Regions from separate parts of the Homo sapiens genome. Here region 2 is linked to region 1. The links come from fine-mapping of genetic effects on gene expression. Tissue or cell type: whole blood. Region 1 holds a variant in brackets; the other region holds the start of a gene. All regions are shown on one strand. Distances are between the middles of the regions.

Evidence for each region. PIP is the estimated chance that this variant, and not a neighbour inherited with it, causes the effect.
Region 2: it holds the start of MTMR9, and the variant in region 1 is fine-mapped to the expression of MTMR9 in whole blood (TOPMed, PIP 0.99). The same link has a PIP of 0.9 or more in neutrophils.

The regions. Positions count from the first base shown.
Region 1 is chr8:11,364,691-11,372,953 of GRCh38, reverse strand. It overlaps FAM167A-AS1 (FAM167A antisense RNA 1), which reads right to left and starts at 4,552. Exons shown (of 7, transcript NR_026814.1): 1 at 4,502-4,552. It also overlaps the pseudogene TDH. The variant C/T (reference allele first, on the strand shown) is at 5,077.
Region 2 is chr8:11,280,496-11,288,495 of GRCh38, reverse strand. It overlaps MTMR9 (myotubularin related protein 9), which reads right to left and starts at 3,680. Exons shown (of 10, transcript NM_015458.4): 1 at 3,426-3,680. The coding sequence starts at 3,607. It overlaps LINC00529 (long intergenic non-protein coding RNA 529), which reads left to right and starts at 4,465. Exons shown (of 5, transcript NR_170283.1): 1 at 4,465-4,645; 2 at 7,075-7,207. RefSeq lists silencers at 3,592-4,001, 7,494-7,543 and enhancers at 3,695-4,196, 4,472-4,531, 4,622-4,711.

The sequences.
Region 1 (8,263 bases):
GCTTTAGAAAAATAAGGGAAATACACACACATACACACACACACACATAAATAGGTATATATGTAGCTGAATGTGCAAATCTGCACCCAGTCATGGTTGCCTCTGGAGAGGGCAGCTGAAGGACAGACACACTTTTCACTGTATTTACCCATTTGTGCTGCCTGAATTTTACCATGTAAAATTCTTACATTTAAAAAAATTAATTAAAAACTTAAAAAGAAAGTAGGTAGATACTTAAAATGGGACCTCAACCTCTCAGGTTGTTAATTTCAGATAATACTGAAAAAGTACTGGCCATGCACGGTGAATCACGTCTGTAATTCCAGCACATTGGGAGGCCGAGGCAGATGGATCACCTGAGGCCAGGAGTTCAAGACCAGCCTGGCCAACATGGCGAAACCCTGTCTCTAGTAAAAATACAAAAATTAGTTGGGTGTGGTGGTGTGTGCCTGTAATCCCAGCTACTCTGGAGGCTGAGGCAGGAGAATCGCTTGAACCTGGGAGGCAGAGGTTGCAGTGAGCCAAGATTGCACCATTACATTCCAGCCTGGGTGACAGAGCAAGACCCTGTCCTGGCGGGGGGAGGGGAGGGAAAAGGACTATGCAGCATAAATTTTTCTTGAAGATTTTTGGTTTCATCTTGACACATAATCTGAGATCTAGACGCCTTGGTAGATGAGCACTGTATCTTTAACAAAATATTCTAGAAACAACAAGTCTTTCTTCCTTTTATAACTCAGAAGACGGTGGTGTGATCAAGAGAGTGGGGAGCCCTGCCCCGCCTACCTACTCACGGTCCCTTCCAGCCCTCTGCAGCAGCCTCCGGTGCTGCAGCTCCACTAATGGGACACGAAAGCATCGCCTAACATTTTATGGAACAAAAAGGATGGATCGCATCCTAGGAACCACACAGGACCTAACCCCCCATGGGACAATCTGCTCTTCCCAACCGTTGTCTCCTGGCAGCTCATATCCCATCTCCTCTTTTCTCCCATGAGGCCTGGCACTTTGCTGCCAACCTTAGCAACTCCTTTAGTGCCCACCACATCTGCTAACGCCCCCCTCCCCAGCCATGCGAAAGGAAGGTGTGAGCCCTGCAGTGACCATCTACTGCTGAGCTTTCCTGGGATCGTTTCAGCCCTCGAGGTAGCAGTCTGAGCAGGGCGGGGACTGCCCTGGCACACTAGTGGTTGCAAATGCAACCACATCTCACCCTCTGCTAAGACTCACATTTTCTTCCAGATTTTTACGTATTTGAAATCAGGATTATCCTACAACTTCTTTTGTACAGGTTGTGATTGTAATAGTGCTAGCATTGCCTATTGGTGACATAGGCACCTTCCAAACACAGCACTGAACCCTGCGCAGTGGGTGTCAGAGGCCAGGAGAAACATTCAGCCATCATTGTAACTCCTAGGAACCAAAGAGTTTAAGGTTTTGGGCAAACCAAATAGAGTTAGCACATTCCTAAAGCAGGTGTCAAAAGTAGGCGAGATTGGCGTAACTATAAAGCTGGTTTACAGTGCCAGTGACTTTTAGGTTTTATGAATTCTTTTAAGGAGTGCTCTGACATAAAACTCATACTGGCACAGAGAACAACACTGGGTGGAAAAACCAGAGACACCAACCACTGAGTCAAAAAGTGATTCAGAAAAGCAAAACCCGAAGTTTCAGGAAAACAAACAAACATACATTTCTAGATCCGTTTCTACAGATGCGCAAGTGATAACATCTGCATCTAGCAAAGTCTCAAAGAGCTCCTCAATGGGATACAAAGTAAAAAGTCCAAACAACAAGAAAGCGTTCTGTTTCTTTTTTCTTTTGTTTTTTTCAGAGATAGGGTCTGGCTCTGTTGCCCAGGGTGGAGTGCAATGCTCTGATCATAGTCACTTCAGCCTCTGCCTCCTGGGCTGAAGTTATCCTCCCACCTCAGCCTCCCAACTAGCTGGGACTACAGGCTCACACCATGACACCCAGCCAATTTTTGTAGAGACAGGGTCTCCCTGTGTTGCCCAGGCTGGTCTTGAACTCCTGGACTCAAGCGATCCTCCTCCCTCAGCCTCTCAAAGTGCTGGGATTACAGGCATCAGCCACTGCACTTGGCCATTGTGTCTATTTAAATGCAAGTTTTCTTCCTTTCTTAGAACATAAAAATAATAGTGTGTATTACAAATAACAGCATATTTTAATAACATATTTTTAATGATACATTTTCTAGGTGCCTTGAATATTAAAAAATTGGGAAAGTACAACCTTGGAGGCAGCTACTTGTTCTGGTTCATTCTTTCATACTACAACTTAAATTACAAATTATATTTAAACTTCTTACAGCAATGTAGGTACAGAAGAATTGTACTTACAGCGTAAAGAAAGAACTGGGCAAAATAATTTTTAAATTTTTGACCTTTTAACAAAAGAGAAAAGCTTTTCTTAAGGACTTCAGACAAATGGATCAACAGACAAGGTATCACATATACTCCCAAAATAAGGCAGAGTTATCTCCCGAAACTATCCCCTTAGGGATGCTCACCTTATATTTGAAACATTACACTCTTTCAGGATATACTAAATGCTGTCGGTAACCTGAAAAGAATACAAGTTATTGTTCTGTGGAAACATTATTAGCCTCAAACAACCTTAAGCAATGCTAATATTGTGGCTGGTAGGATAAGTTGTAAAGGAGGCACATTAACAGTCACGGTCTCTAGGATTATAAAGCTACAGTTACAAGTATTTGGTGTCACTGGAAAGAAGCCTGTTAAAAATCGAAAGCAATGCTCTGTGGATTCTGAAAAGCAGCTGCCCTAGTGCTACCTACACACAGGCATACTTGTGGCTTGGGATAAATGTCCACCAACAGCATCATACATAGACCCCGAAACTGCTGCATCCCAAACAACTTAGAAAGAAAAAAGATCATCTGCTCTTAACCTATTAGGGGATGCCAAAGGGGGCACCAAGATCAAATACGAAGTCGGAGTGACATGCCTGAAATGCGAATGTGAAGAGGGAAAGCCCACATGCTGGTTAATAGATTAACAAATCTGAAACACCTGCAACTAATAGTACAGGTGTCTATTTTATCCTCTCATCTACAATCCTAAACTTTATATATGTAAGTTGGCTAAAAAAAAGTTTTCTGGGATCTTCACATTGGAAGGTAAGGGGTGGCCTGTTTAGCTACCTTATAGACAAACATACTAAAGCTATAAAAACAGTGCCATGAAATAATTTTTTTTAAAGTGACTACCCTAAAAAAAAATCATTAAAAAACAAGATTCCTTTCTCACCGGTGATTTTTGGAAGCAATTCACTGATTTAGAGGCAGTTATCATCCGGTTATGTGAGATCTAGGATTTATTCACTCACGGCTCTTGTATTAGAATGTTAAGATTCTCCAGCAAAAAATGAAGTTTATATTCTTCAAACCTTTTAGAAAAATAAAACTTTCAACTGATCCTGTTGCCTCAGCCTCCCAAAAGTGCTGGGATTACAAGTATGAGTCATTGCACCCAGCCACAAAAATAAAACTTTTCAACAAATGTAAACCATACTGAGGTCCATGAATATGTGCCAAGAGGAAGGTGTTGATGGTCGAGAATTTCATCACAAATTAATCCAACTCGTTCCGAAGATAAATTTGACCACATAAAATGAAGAGGCAAGTAGGTGTTTACGCCCTGTGACCCAGTAATTGTACTTCTAGGTTTCAGCAATTAAATAGAATGACATCATTATGATACTCCATTCAACGAGTTATGCAGCTATCTTTAAATGGCAAATGTTAAAACTACATGTAAGTTCTTTGTAACGCATAGAGGACTGGAGAATATTTTAAAACAGCTACCATGTGACATGGCAAAAATTGAAAGTGAGTCTTTTCCAAAACTTTTGACAATATTGTCTTAGCACTACTTTTATAGTAAAAGAAAAGAAAAAGGTTTCACCTTCCACTCCTAGATTGTATAAGCACAGGAGAAAATAAAAGGTATACACTAGTTTTTTTGTGTGTTGTTGTTTGAGATGGTCTCGCTCTGTGGCTCAGGCTGGAGTATGGTGGCGCAAGCATAGCTCATTGCAGCCTCAAACTCCTGGCTACAAGTGATCCCTCAGCTTCAGCCACGTGAGTAGCAGCTACAGGTGTGCATCACCACATCTGGCTTAAATTATTTTTGTAGAGATGAGAGTCTTGCTATGTTGTCCAGGCTGGTCTTGAACTCCTGGCTTTAAGCAATCCTCCTGCCTCAGCCTCCTAAAGTACTGATTACAGGTGTGAGCCACTGCACTGGGTCCCACACTACACTGCTAACATGTTATTGATTGGGTTTGGAGGGGAAGACAACTTTATTATATATCTTTTAAATTGTCTGAACTCTTAATAAACATTTTTTTAAAATGACAGAATTTAAAGCATTTTCTGAACACCCTTACCATAAAATACAATCACAAATTGGTGATTTGGCCTATGTGAATTAAAAAATACTAAATATCTCCCACCTACCATAGTAAGTGTCCAAAGCACTGCAGTAGCTTTCACTAATCCAGTCTGTTCTGGACTCCAGGCCATCTATCTTGCTGGCAGACTTCGGGATCGCTGTTTGTGTAGCAACACAAGGCACATCCCAGCAACGCCACACACAAACATGTGAGCAGAAAACTAATAACCACCGGTAGCCTGTGTAAAACATCAGAACAAAGCCAATCTTTGTATTCTTTCTTTTTTATTTATAAATAAACTATTTTTGTGGTTAAACCCACTTTTCCTTCAAATAGCTTTTTGGGTTATTTCCAAATTAATCATAAAAAACCCTTTCTCCCAACAGAACGGAAAGCATTTTACAGGAAAACATTGATGGGCTCCGGGATCCCAAGATGTGCACCAGATACTGAGTGTTCAGACAGAAGGGACAACTCTAATTCTAGTCTTGGAGTACAAAGATGTCAGTGAATAAGAATCATCCAAAGAAGCTGAAGCATTCATTATTTTTTCACTCTTATTTGAGATCTCCTGGAGGTGTGTTTACAGATTGGGAAAGATTCAAGGAACCTGTTTGGAACAAACCCCTCCAAATGATC[C/T]GAATTAAAGGTCATTCTAGGAGCCTGGTAGAAATGCTGGAAGGTTAGGGTCTAGGAGACAAAGGTCACTCGAGTTGCTGCTTCTTATCTTATGAAAGGGAAGAATTGCTTGTTCCTTTAAGATAACTGAGAATAAATTAATCAAACTTAAGAACTGTTTTTTAAACTATAAACAGTAAGCAATCATTTTAAAACTCAATTATCTACCCAAATGTTCACAGCAGCATTATTCATAATAGCTTAAAAAGTGCAAAAAACCTAAATGTCCCTCAATGGATGAATGGATAGAGAAAATAAGAGGATTACTCATACAATGGAATATTACTTAGCAATAAAAAATGAAGTAGTGATACATGCTAAAACATGGATGAACCTTGAAAATGGACTGCTTAATTAAAGAAGCCACTAAAAGACAACCACATTCCACTTACATAAAATGCTCAGAACAGACAAACCCAGGGACAGAAGAAGTACATTAGTGGTTGCCGAGGGTGGGAAGGGCTTATATAATATGATTTCTTTGTGGGGTGATGAAATGGCCTAAAATTAGATTATAGTGATGGTTGCAAAACTTTTTAATACATTGAAAACCACAGAACTATAAATGAGTGAATTTTATGGTATGTAAACTATATCTCAAACTTTCAAAAAAAGAATTCATTACTAACTTTCTGATTTTAAAAAATAAAATCTTCCTGCCTCTCAAGAGCAGCCCAAAAGAAAAATAACAAAAAAATAAAATCTACAAACATAAACCTTATTAAGTGGAGGAAAAAGCTACAGTAATGTAACTGTTAAACAATTCAATTACCTAAAAGTTCTCCAGTTAATAGTCAAATAGATTTTAAATCCAGTTATGCCTTCAAAAAAATCCACGCTTTGACCTAACAGTTCAAAACTCCAAATGCATAACATTTTGTTATTAAGCATGCAACATAAATAAACGCCTTTTAATCCTTGATAGCTGTTATCAAATATATCCATGATTAATCTGTGGAACTGGAAGTTTCACTTCCTAGTGATTTTACATGCAGTACATTCCGAGGTCGCTGGAAAAAAGTTAACCTGTACGTGTCTATACAGTATTGCACCAGAAATATTTTTTTAAATGACCGGATTGAAAGCATTTTCTGAACACACTCATTCCCTTACCATAAAATACAATCAGAAATTGATTTGGCCTAACTTCAACTTAAAAAGTTAACCTGTATGTATCTATACGGTAATTGCATCAGAGGGTTTAGAGTAGCCCTTCTGAAAGCTCAACCCAGGAATATCTTAAAAAAAAAAGATGCAACAAGAAAGTGCTCTTTAGAAAACTGCATTGGTCTAAACTGGTCTGACTAGTGGGCCTCAGCTGGATTCAAATAACCAGTGGCACCTGGCACTTAATGAGTGAATCTAAAGGGATGTAGCCCAGAAACCTGTGTATTAGACAATCTCCCTAGATGCTGATGTTGCCAGGTCAGGGAATTATGTTCCTGGGAATTACATTTAGCTCACTAATAGGAGGGCAATCAAAATAAGAGCAGGGCTACCCTTCGCTGGTTACATCATCTTTGAATTCTTAATTTCCCACAGATCTAGCATCTTACAGAAAAACCAGAAATTATAATTTTTGAAGCAGTGTCAAAATATCTTGAATGTGATAGACATGGGATGAATACACCAAACATGTTTTACTTTCGCTGGGATAGTAAAGAATACTTATAAATGAGGAGTACCTCTTTGAAAGTCCTTAAAATGTAATCTTTGGTCTTTAGTCAAGAGAATAATCGAGTCTTAAGAGGAATATTTAAATTGAATTTAATTAAACACAAATGTCACATACTCCCAGCTTCCCAGAAATAGTCACTTCATCCTAATTAAGGAAATGGAAACTAATGATGACTTAAGCCTTATTCTGTGGAATGTGTTTAGACAAGTTCAGGCAAACAGCAAAAACTGAAAAGTCCCACCACCATACCTACAACATTCTGAAAATGCTTAAATGTTAACTCCATTCTTTGTCTAGCAGTTCAATATGAGCTGCCAAAATTTAGTCCAATGAGTCAGTTCCAAATAATGTAGGCTCCTTGGAGTCTATAACCTTGGAGTTGTGACAGTTCTCCCTTGACAGTGGACCAGGACACAGGAGCTCCTCTTCCAGATTCTTTCAGTTGGCTTGGGCAACTCTGCTTTCAGAACCATGGAAGTTCAACATGGCAGTCACCAACTCTGGAAGATCAAAGTCGTGTTTCCACCCCCAGTCCTTCCGAGCATTGCTGTCATCAAAGTTCATCGGCCAACCATCCGCTAGGAAAAGATACGCAAGACTAGCTTAAGTTATTCAGGTTGTGGATTTGCAAAAAGGTCTTGACCATTGTATATAAAGGTCTACCGTACAAGGTACAAAACAGGAAATTCCTTCGAGTAAAGCAGAACCGCCATTATGCACAGTCACCCTCCTAGGGCCGAAGACTATTAACCCATCTTTCGTCAGGCACTGTGAATTTTCACACATTATCAAAATCTCACACAACTTCATAAGAAGTTTTATACTCAAAGAGGTGCTTCCATCCACAAATTGGCAAAGTTACAGTATTTGAAAACCTGGGGCTGTTTTCATACTACCTCTGTTGCTTCTATTTTTCCTTGCTTTATGTTTAAACTGTAAAAATGATGAAAGGCTAACAAGCTGTTTATTTGGAATGGAATGATTTCACCCACTTTAGATATCATTCCCCAAAATCAAAGCATCTGCTAGCTTGGGCTCAACAATTTCTTGGGCTAGGCTCCTTCTCCAAAAGGTGTCTGGACCCTTGGGAAGGATCTATGCTCTCTTCAACCTTCCAAGGTTTACATTCTCCAGGGACTCACAGTAAAGGCCTTTGCCACCGGGTACGAACCTATGGCCTGGCGAACGGCATCCACGTTGTATGTGATCTGGAATTCCGGCACGTGCTTGAGGACCTCCTGGGCCAGCTCCTCGGGTGTGAAGCTCATGGCGCTGACATTGTAGGTCCTCATGGAAAGGGACTCAGCTGGGGCCTCCATGACCTCCAGGGTGGCTCTGAGGCAGTCGTCAATGTACATCATGGGCAGTCTCGTGCAGGCTTCCAGGTTGCACTCGAATTTGCCATGCTTTGTGGCATCATGGAAAATCTGGACTGCATAGTCTGAAAGGGAATCCCGTATGTAGGTTATA
Region 2 (8,000 bases), 84 kb after region 1:
ATTCCGGTCTGTAGTCAGATGTCACCTGCCTTCTCTGAAATCCTTTCTAAGGAAACTGCCTCCCAGTGCTCTTTATCCTCTCATCTTCCGTTACTTTCCTTCCTGGCCCTTATTACCTGACATCATTATATATATATTATATATATATAAATATATTATATATTTATGTATATATATTATATATACATATTATAATATATATTATATGCTATATTATACTATATTATAATATATAATTATTATAATATAATTATTATTATTATATATTATAATTATTAATATATTATATATAATAATTACATGTATTAGGTGAATAGGTGAATAAATAATTATTCACCTATTCGCTGAATAATTAGGTGAATATTTAGGTGAATAATTATTTAATATAATTAGGTGAATAATTATATATATTATATAGGTGAAATATAATATATATTATATAATACGTATTATATAATATATATTATATATCATACGTATTATATACTATGTATTATATGTAATATATATTATATAATACATATATAATACATAGTATATAATACGTATGATATATAACACATATTATATAATATATAATACATATTATGTTATATATAATACGTATTATATATGTTATATATTATAATATAATATATAACATATATAATAAAATATATAATGTTATATATTATATATTATATGTATTATATAATATGTATTATATATAATATATAATAAATATATAATAAATAAATAATAAATATATAAGAAAATAATATATAATATATAATATATATTATAATATATATAATATATAATAAACATAATAAATATAAATATATCTAATAAATATATATATTTATTTCTGGACTTGCTTGATTGTCCATCTCCCTGGCCAGTACCTAAGCATCTTGTCTTAGTCACCACTGCAGCCGCACAGCTCAGACAATGCACGTGGAAAACAGGTGGATGTAAAGATTTCTTGAAAGCAGCAATTTAACAAACTCTGATCTGATGCCTCCCCTATGCTCTTTCACTACACCACGCTGCTTCCCAGGAAAAGGATAAATGTGTGTACAGTTCGTCATTCTCTCCTAACAGATTCAAAGGTCCATGGCTCATCTGCTTCTTCTTCATGTACTACAAAGCCCAGCACCTTGTAAATGCAAGGTAAAAAGGAGGAAACAAATGAGCGCAAAGTAACCACCATAAAAGGTAAATAAGAAAGGAAAGGTAGTTGATGGTCATGGAGAAACTACTCAGTTGTATTCAACGGCATCTGACCATTCAGCGGTCAATCCTTCTTTTGTTTCCTACGCGTCTATATGCCCAAGCCACAGTTAGACGTTTCGAAGGAGATAAAAATGAATTCCAGTTGTGGAATTAACAGAAGAATTTGTGAAGGAGGTAGCGGTCGAAATGGTTAAACTGAATACTCATAGACAGGTAACAGGCTCATTGCCTGTGAACTCCTGAAAGACAAGAACTGTAACATATTTTATTTACCTTGGTGTCTTAAATGCCTAACAAAACGTCCAGAACATAAAGGCATTTGGCAAATGTTAAACAAACTTGGGAGAGGCAAGGCATTCCAGCAGAAGGAAGAAGTCAATAAAATACACAGATGACAGAATACAGGACATATACCAGCACCAGTAAATAGTGAGGACTGGCTGGTAAAAAGCGTTCATGAAAGCAAGTGCAAGAAAGGCTCGTTAAAAGAAATGGCAAGAAATAAAGTGAGAAAGTAGGATAGGGCCGAGACACAGAATGCCATGAATGACTGAGGGGTTTAGATTTTCAATGAGAGACCACTGAAGACTTTTTTTTTTTTTTTTTTTTTTTTTGAGATGGAGTTTTGCTCTTGTTGCAAAGGAAGGAGTGCAGTGGCCCGATCTCGGCTCACTGCAACCTCTGCTTCCAAGGTTCAAGCGATTTTTCCGCCTCAGCCTCCTGAGTAACTGGGATTACAGGCACCTGCCACTATGCCCGGTTAATTTTTTGTATTTTTAGTAGAGACGGGCTTTCATCATGTTGGTCAGGCTGGTCTCAAACTCCTAACCTCAGGTGATCCGCTCACCTTGGCCTCCCAAAGTGCTGGGATTACAGGCGTGAGCCACCGTGCCGGGCCCACTGAAGACTTTATACAGCAAAAGGTGGCTTGAGGAGACTAATAAGAGCCCCCTGCTCATATCAATCAATCAATCTACCATGGCTTCACCCAAACTGCCTGCAATTCTACCATTAGAAATTTTTATTTTAGGCCAGGCGCAGTGGCTCACGCCTGTAATCCCAGAACTGTGGGAGGCCTAGGCGGGAGGATTGCGAGGTCAGGAGTTCAAGACCAGCCTGGTCAATATGGTGAAACCCCATCTCTACTAAAAAATACAAAAATTAGCCGGGTGTGGTGGCGCGTGCCTGTAATCCCAGCTACTCGGGAGGCTGAGACAGAAGAATCGCTAGAACCTGGGAGGTGGAGGTTACAGTGAGCCGAGATTGGCCACCGCACTCCAGCCTGGGCAATACAGTGAGATTTCGTCTCCAAAAAAAAAAAAAAAAAAAAAAGAAAGAAAGAAAGAGATTATTATTTTAAGGCATATCCTCTGTACGAATCTTCCTAATATCCAAATTATCCTGTGAGGCAATAGAAAATGTTGTCGTCATTCATTTATACTTCTGTGTAAAACGGATAATCAGTTTGCCCTCTCCTGGCTAGCGAGTAGCCACTAAGGAGATGGGAATTTTGAATGCAGATGAAAGTTTAACTTTTTGACTTCGAGGCACTGCCTTGGAAAGATAAAGTCTGGAGTACAAAAAGAAAAAAGAGGTTAACTGGTCCATGCCTTTCCTTGAGAGCCAACCCTGTTCTTTCAGCAAGCAGAATTGAGTAAAGATGAAGAGAAGACATCAGAATCTCCCTTAGTGAGAATTAAATTTTGATGACCCAGAAGGTAAGAAATAATATGATACACTGAACATTTTTCAGAAATTAAAAAAATGGTTCTGTAGCATGTAGACACTCATAACTTTATAATCTGTTTAGTTTTCCTCAGAAATGGTAAAGACTTTACCTAAATCACATCCAATCACTTCATGAACGGTGACTGACAATACCAATTCAAGGAATACGATGGGGCAAGAAGAAGAAGAAATTTATAAAGACAATGCCGAAAATCCACCCAAATGGTGTTACGAACCAGAAATGATCATCAGGATGGTACCAGCCACACGATAACCCTGAGAACTCCATCCAGGTTTAATGGAAACCGGGTCCTCCATCTGGACGGGTTTCAGCTTGGTAAATCCTGATTCTAGGCCACAGAGGGCTCATCTTGCCGGCTAGCTGGGCGGCAGGCTGCGCGGAAAACGCCAGGAAGTATTTCCCGGGGCGCCCACAAGGGACCCCCGGCTCCCTGCGGAGCTGGGGTGGGGCGGGCACTCACCGCTTGTCGATGGCGTCGATGTTTGAATGGAGGAGCCACAGCTCCTCCGTATTGTCCTGCCGGGAGGACAGGATCAAGTGGTGGCCCGTCAGGCACAGGGTGCCCTCGACAGCCGGGTAGAAAGGCCGGTGCAGCACCACATTGTCCACCCGCGGGGTCTTAATCAGCTCCGCAAACTCCATGCTCCCCCGCGGCCGGAGCCAGGGAACCGAGCCCGGTAGGTGCGAGGCGGTTACCCCGCCGCAGGGAAGTAGCGGAAACACCCGGCGCGGGGCTGGCCCGTGGGGCGGGGCGGGCCGGGCGGTGAGGCTGGGCCCGCCCCAGGCTGGGTGGGCGCGGCGAGGCCTACAGCCGCCGGCACCGGCCGCGGGGAGACAGGGGCTGGGGCTGGACGAGGCCCAAGCGCCTCTCCCGCACCGCGCGGTTCACCAGGCCTAGGACTCGGCCACAGAGAACCCCTCTCCACAGGCCCAAGGACCGCCGCTGCCGTTGGGCTCCGGGTCCCGCGTTGGCAAGCGGAGGGCAGTAGGAGAAAGCCGCCTCAGAATCCGCTTCCACGCCCTGGCCGCTAGGGACTCCTAGCGGAAGTGGCTACTCGCTGCTGGAGCCCACAACAACTCCGGGCGGAAGCAGCAGGTCTCGAAACTCGGAAGACGCGGAAGTCGCAGCCGGAAGTTGGTCCTCGCTAGGTCCTCTGGAAATGCCTCCGGAAACACAGCCAGACCAGAAGATGTGTGTTCCTACGAGAAAAAAAGCTTGTCTTTGCCTTCACGCCCTCCCGCTGCCTTTCTTAACCACCTACAAATATTCCTTATCAGAAGAGGTCCGGGAAGAGGGAGGAGGTCCCTGTCTTGCCTTCCTCCGCTTGAGTAGTATCCCCTCCAGAAGCTCTTCAGAGCGTGGGGCTGCTGTAAATTGTGATAATTGTTATGCATTAGCCCTGAAGACATGGCAAGTAGGGGATGGAGGCGGTGACTGTGACCTTACGGAATCCTCCAGGGGTCAGGGAGGGACACAGGGCCACTCCACAGGCTCTCCGAGAGCGCCGCGCCACGAGGTGTAACCTGGAGCAAGAAAGAGGAAAAACAGGAATACCTGTGAGAGGAACCCAAGTACATGCAGTGCACAGAAGAGCAAGTCACTTGACTTGCTGGCGGCCACCCCGTTAATCTGCAGCAGAGCCTGGACTTCAGTCTGCATCTGTGAAACCCAGCGCATGGGTGCGTTGGTCACCACCGCACAGCCTCCCCGTCAGACACCCACGTTTCGCCAAAAATTTATTCAAATAATTACTCCTTTGCTTGTTCCTTTCCCACCGCCCACTTCTGACATTTTTATTCAAAAGTAGGAAATAGAAGAGAAATATGTTTGAGTGCTGGTCTGCTGTGACTTCATTGACCTTTTAAATCCTCACCATCTAGTACCTAAGCACAGCGAGTTGGACAAACTCTCACAGTATTCACAAAGTAAATTGCCACAACCTCATCAGCTCATCCAACACTTGTCCATGCTTTTGATTTTGTCCTTCTTAAAATGTACCCTTCTTAAAATAAACCACTTTATAGACTTGTTTTAAGTGAGATACGTAAATGCCTACCAACTTTCCTTGGTGTCTTTGTTGCATAGTTACTGTAGACTGAATAATAGTTGCCATTTTTTATATTTTTGCAGTTTAATTGCTTTCGTCCAAATAGATGGAATCACTTCCTTTGTAATATATGAAGTGTTTTAATTCATTTTTATAACTAGCATTCCTGACAGCACAGGTATCCACCCCCTGAAGTTCCCATTCTATAGAACAAAATAGCAAATAAGTATTTTTTTTTTGTTCCATAATGGACACCCAGTATACACCCAGTATACACAGGGACACCGCATACAGGGAATCAGCTTTATTTTACAACAGAGCTTCACTTTACCCCTCTGGCAATTAATAGATTCTGGGTATTTATTAAGAACTTTAAATTTAATGCAAAGACTGTTAAATACCACCAGCTCAGCTCTGGCAAAGGACTGTTGGCTTTGTTTATCTCCTATCTTCATCCAGATACACTGCCATCCCTATCCCAGCCCGATCTTGGGTCCTTGAAAAAAATGACCTATCATTCCAACTACCAGGGAGGAACTCCCTTTGAATTAATGAATCTGGATGACTTATAAGACTTCAAAAGTATGGAAATGACAAAGGTTAAAATGACAGGATGAGCAGTAAACCCTCTCCAGTCCAATCAGAGCAACCTTTTTGAGGGTGCATTCCCACAGAAACCCATTAGGGGCCCAACATCAACATACACAGAGCTAAAATTCCAGATGCCACTTTGTATTGAAAGAAGCCAAAATTCTGTTCAGGTCGTGGGAACTTGAAGTCTTCAATGCAACCACACCCCAGAAATTAACCCTCACACAATCATGTAAGCTATGCAATTAACCAAACTGCATCGTTTAGAAAACCTGTATGCTTTTCATGGAAACCATCCCTAGTTAAGGGCACTTTAAAGGATGCACAGTCTAAGTACTGTGAAGGTGGGCCCACTAGCTGGGTTGACATTTTCGCTTGGCCACTTTAGTAGGAAACTTAACCACTTGGGAAAGTGAAAACAACAAGCTAACCCACATGTTCACCATGGAAAACAATTTTTGTCTTGAAAAACAAGGAACCTTTTCCCTGTGCAGCACCAGTTCCTACTGTGTTTACCAGCCAATTGGACTGGAACCTGTACACTTGGTTTTTAGCCTCCGAAATCAATATAGCTCCCGGCCGGGCGCAGTTTCTCACGCCTATAATCCCAGCACTTTGGGAGGCCGAGGCAGGCGGATCACCTGAGGTCAGGAGTTCGAGACCAGCCTGGCCAACATGCTGAAACCCTGTTTCTACTAAAAATACAAAAAATTAGCCGGGTATGGTGGCGCACACCTGTAATCCCAGCTACTCTGGAGACTGAGACAGGAGAATCACTTGAACCCTGGAGACAGAGGTTGCAGTGAGCCAAGACTGAGCCACTGTGCTCCAGCCTGGGTGACAGAGGGAGACTGTCTCAAAACAAACAAACTATATATATATGTGTATATATATATATATATTTAGAGAGAGAGAGGGAGAGCTCTCAACAACCAATCCCTCATTATACCTTTAACTGCAACCGCCAGACACAAATGAGCAATCCAACTCAAACGCCTTTTTGTTGGGCTAGGAATAACAGTGAGAGCAGGAACGGGAGTTACCGGGCTTGCAACTTCCCTATACTGTTACCAGCACTTTCCAAGGATTTTGTGGAAAGCTTGGATGACATTGCCCAAAGTATCGTCACAACACAAACTCAAACAGACTCCTTGGCAGCAGTTGCTTTACAAAATAGAAGGGGACTGGATCTCCTAACTGCTGGAAAAGGTGGCTTATGTCTTTTTCTAGAGGAAGAATGCTGTTTTTATGTCAACCAATTAGAATTAGTAAGGGATGCCACCCAGAAATTAGCTGACCAGGCTTCTAAGATACGACAACAGCTGTCCAAGTCGTGGTCCTCCTGTTCAAAAATGCTAATTAGGGGTTCATGAGTCCTTCCTCTGACTGGCTCGTTGTTAATTATACTTGCCTTGGTTTTTGGACCATATTTATTAAATACATTAACCAAATTAATTTCCTCTCGCCTAGAGACCATCAAGCTTCAGATGATCATGCAACAAGGTTTCCAGCCAGTTCAGGTGAAGACACCACTACTGGCCATCAAGAAGCTACCCTGTATCCACTAGACAGAGCAGAGTGAGAGTTCTGTGATCCCAAATAGGTAGGCACCGCACCCCAAGTCAGCATGAAGCAGTTACAGAAGAAAGACCATTGGTCCCTCTGCCTCCCATAAAGATTTATGGGGATCATGTCTCACAGCGGGAAAATGAGACAGGAGAATAGGGTCTAGAGGCAGGGAACCTAAGGCCAATTCTCACTGACTTCCTAGAACTGAATCAGAGGGGAAACCCCACCTCTTCACACGAATGTAACGAAAGGATCAGAGGCTACTCCCTTTGCACTGCACTGCAAATGAAAAATGGAAAGTACCTCTGATTGGTCCCCTCCCACAACCATTCAGACTGGTTGCAGGCCAAGTCTTCATGTGTAACTTTGTAACTACCGTCACTTCAGACTCTGATTGGTCACCTCCCATGATCAGTCAGACTTGTGACGGGCCACTCCTTCATTTACATAGGGTGTAACCAAGTAACCAATGGGAAACCTCTAGAGGCTATTTAAACCCCATGCTGCACGATGGCTCACACCTGTAATCCCACCACTTTGGGAGGCTGAGGAGGGTGGATCACAAGGTTAGGAGTTCCAGACTAGCCTGGCCAACCGACATGGTGAAACCCTATCTCTACTAAAATTACAAAAATTAGCCAGGTGTGGTGTGGGCCTGTAATCCCAGCTATTGGGGAGGCTGAAGCAGGAGAATTGCTTGAACCTGGGAGGTGTAGGTTGCAGTGAGCCAAGAATGTGCCACCGCACTCCAGCCTGGGTGACAGAACAAGACTCCGCCTCAAAAAAATAAAAAAATTAAGCCCCAGAAAATTCTGTAACCAGCGCTC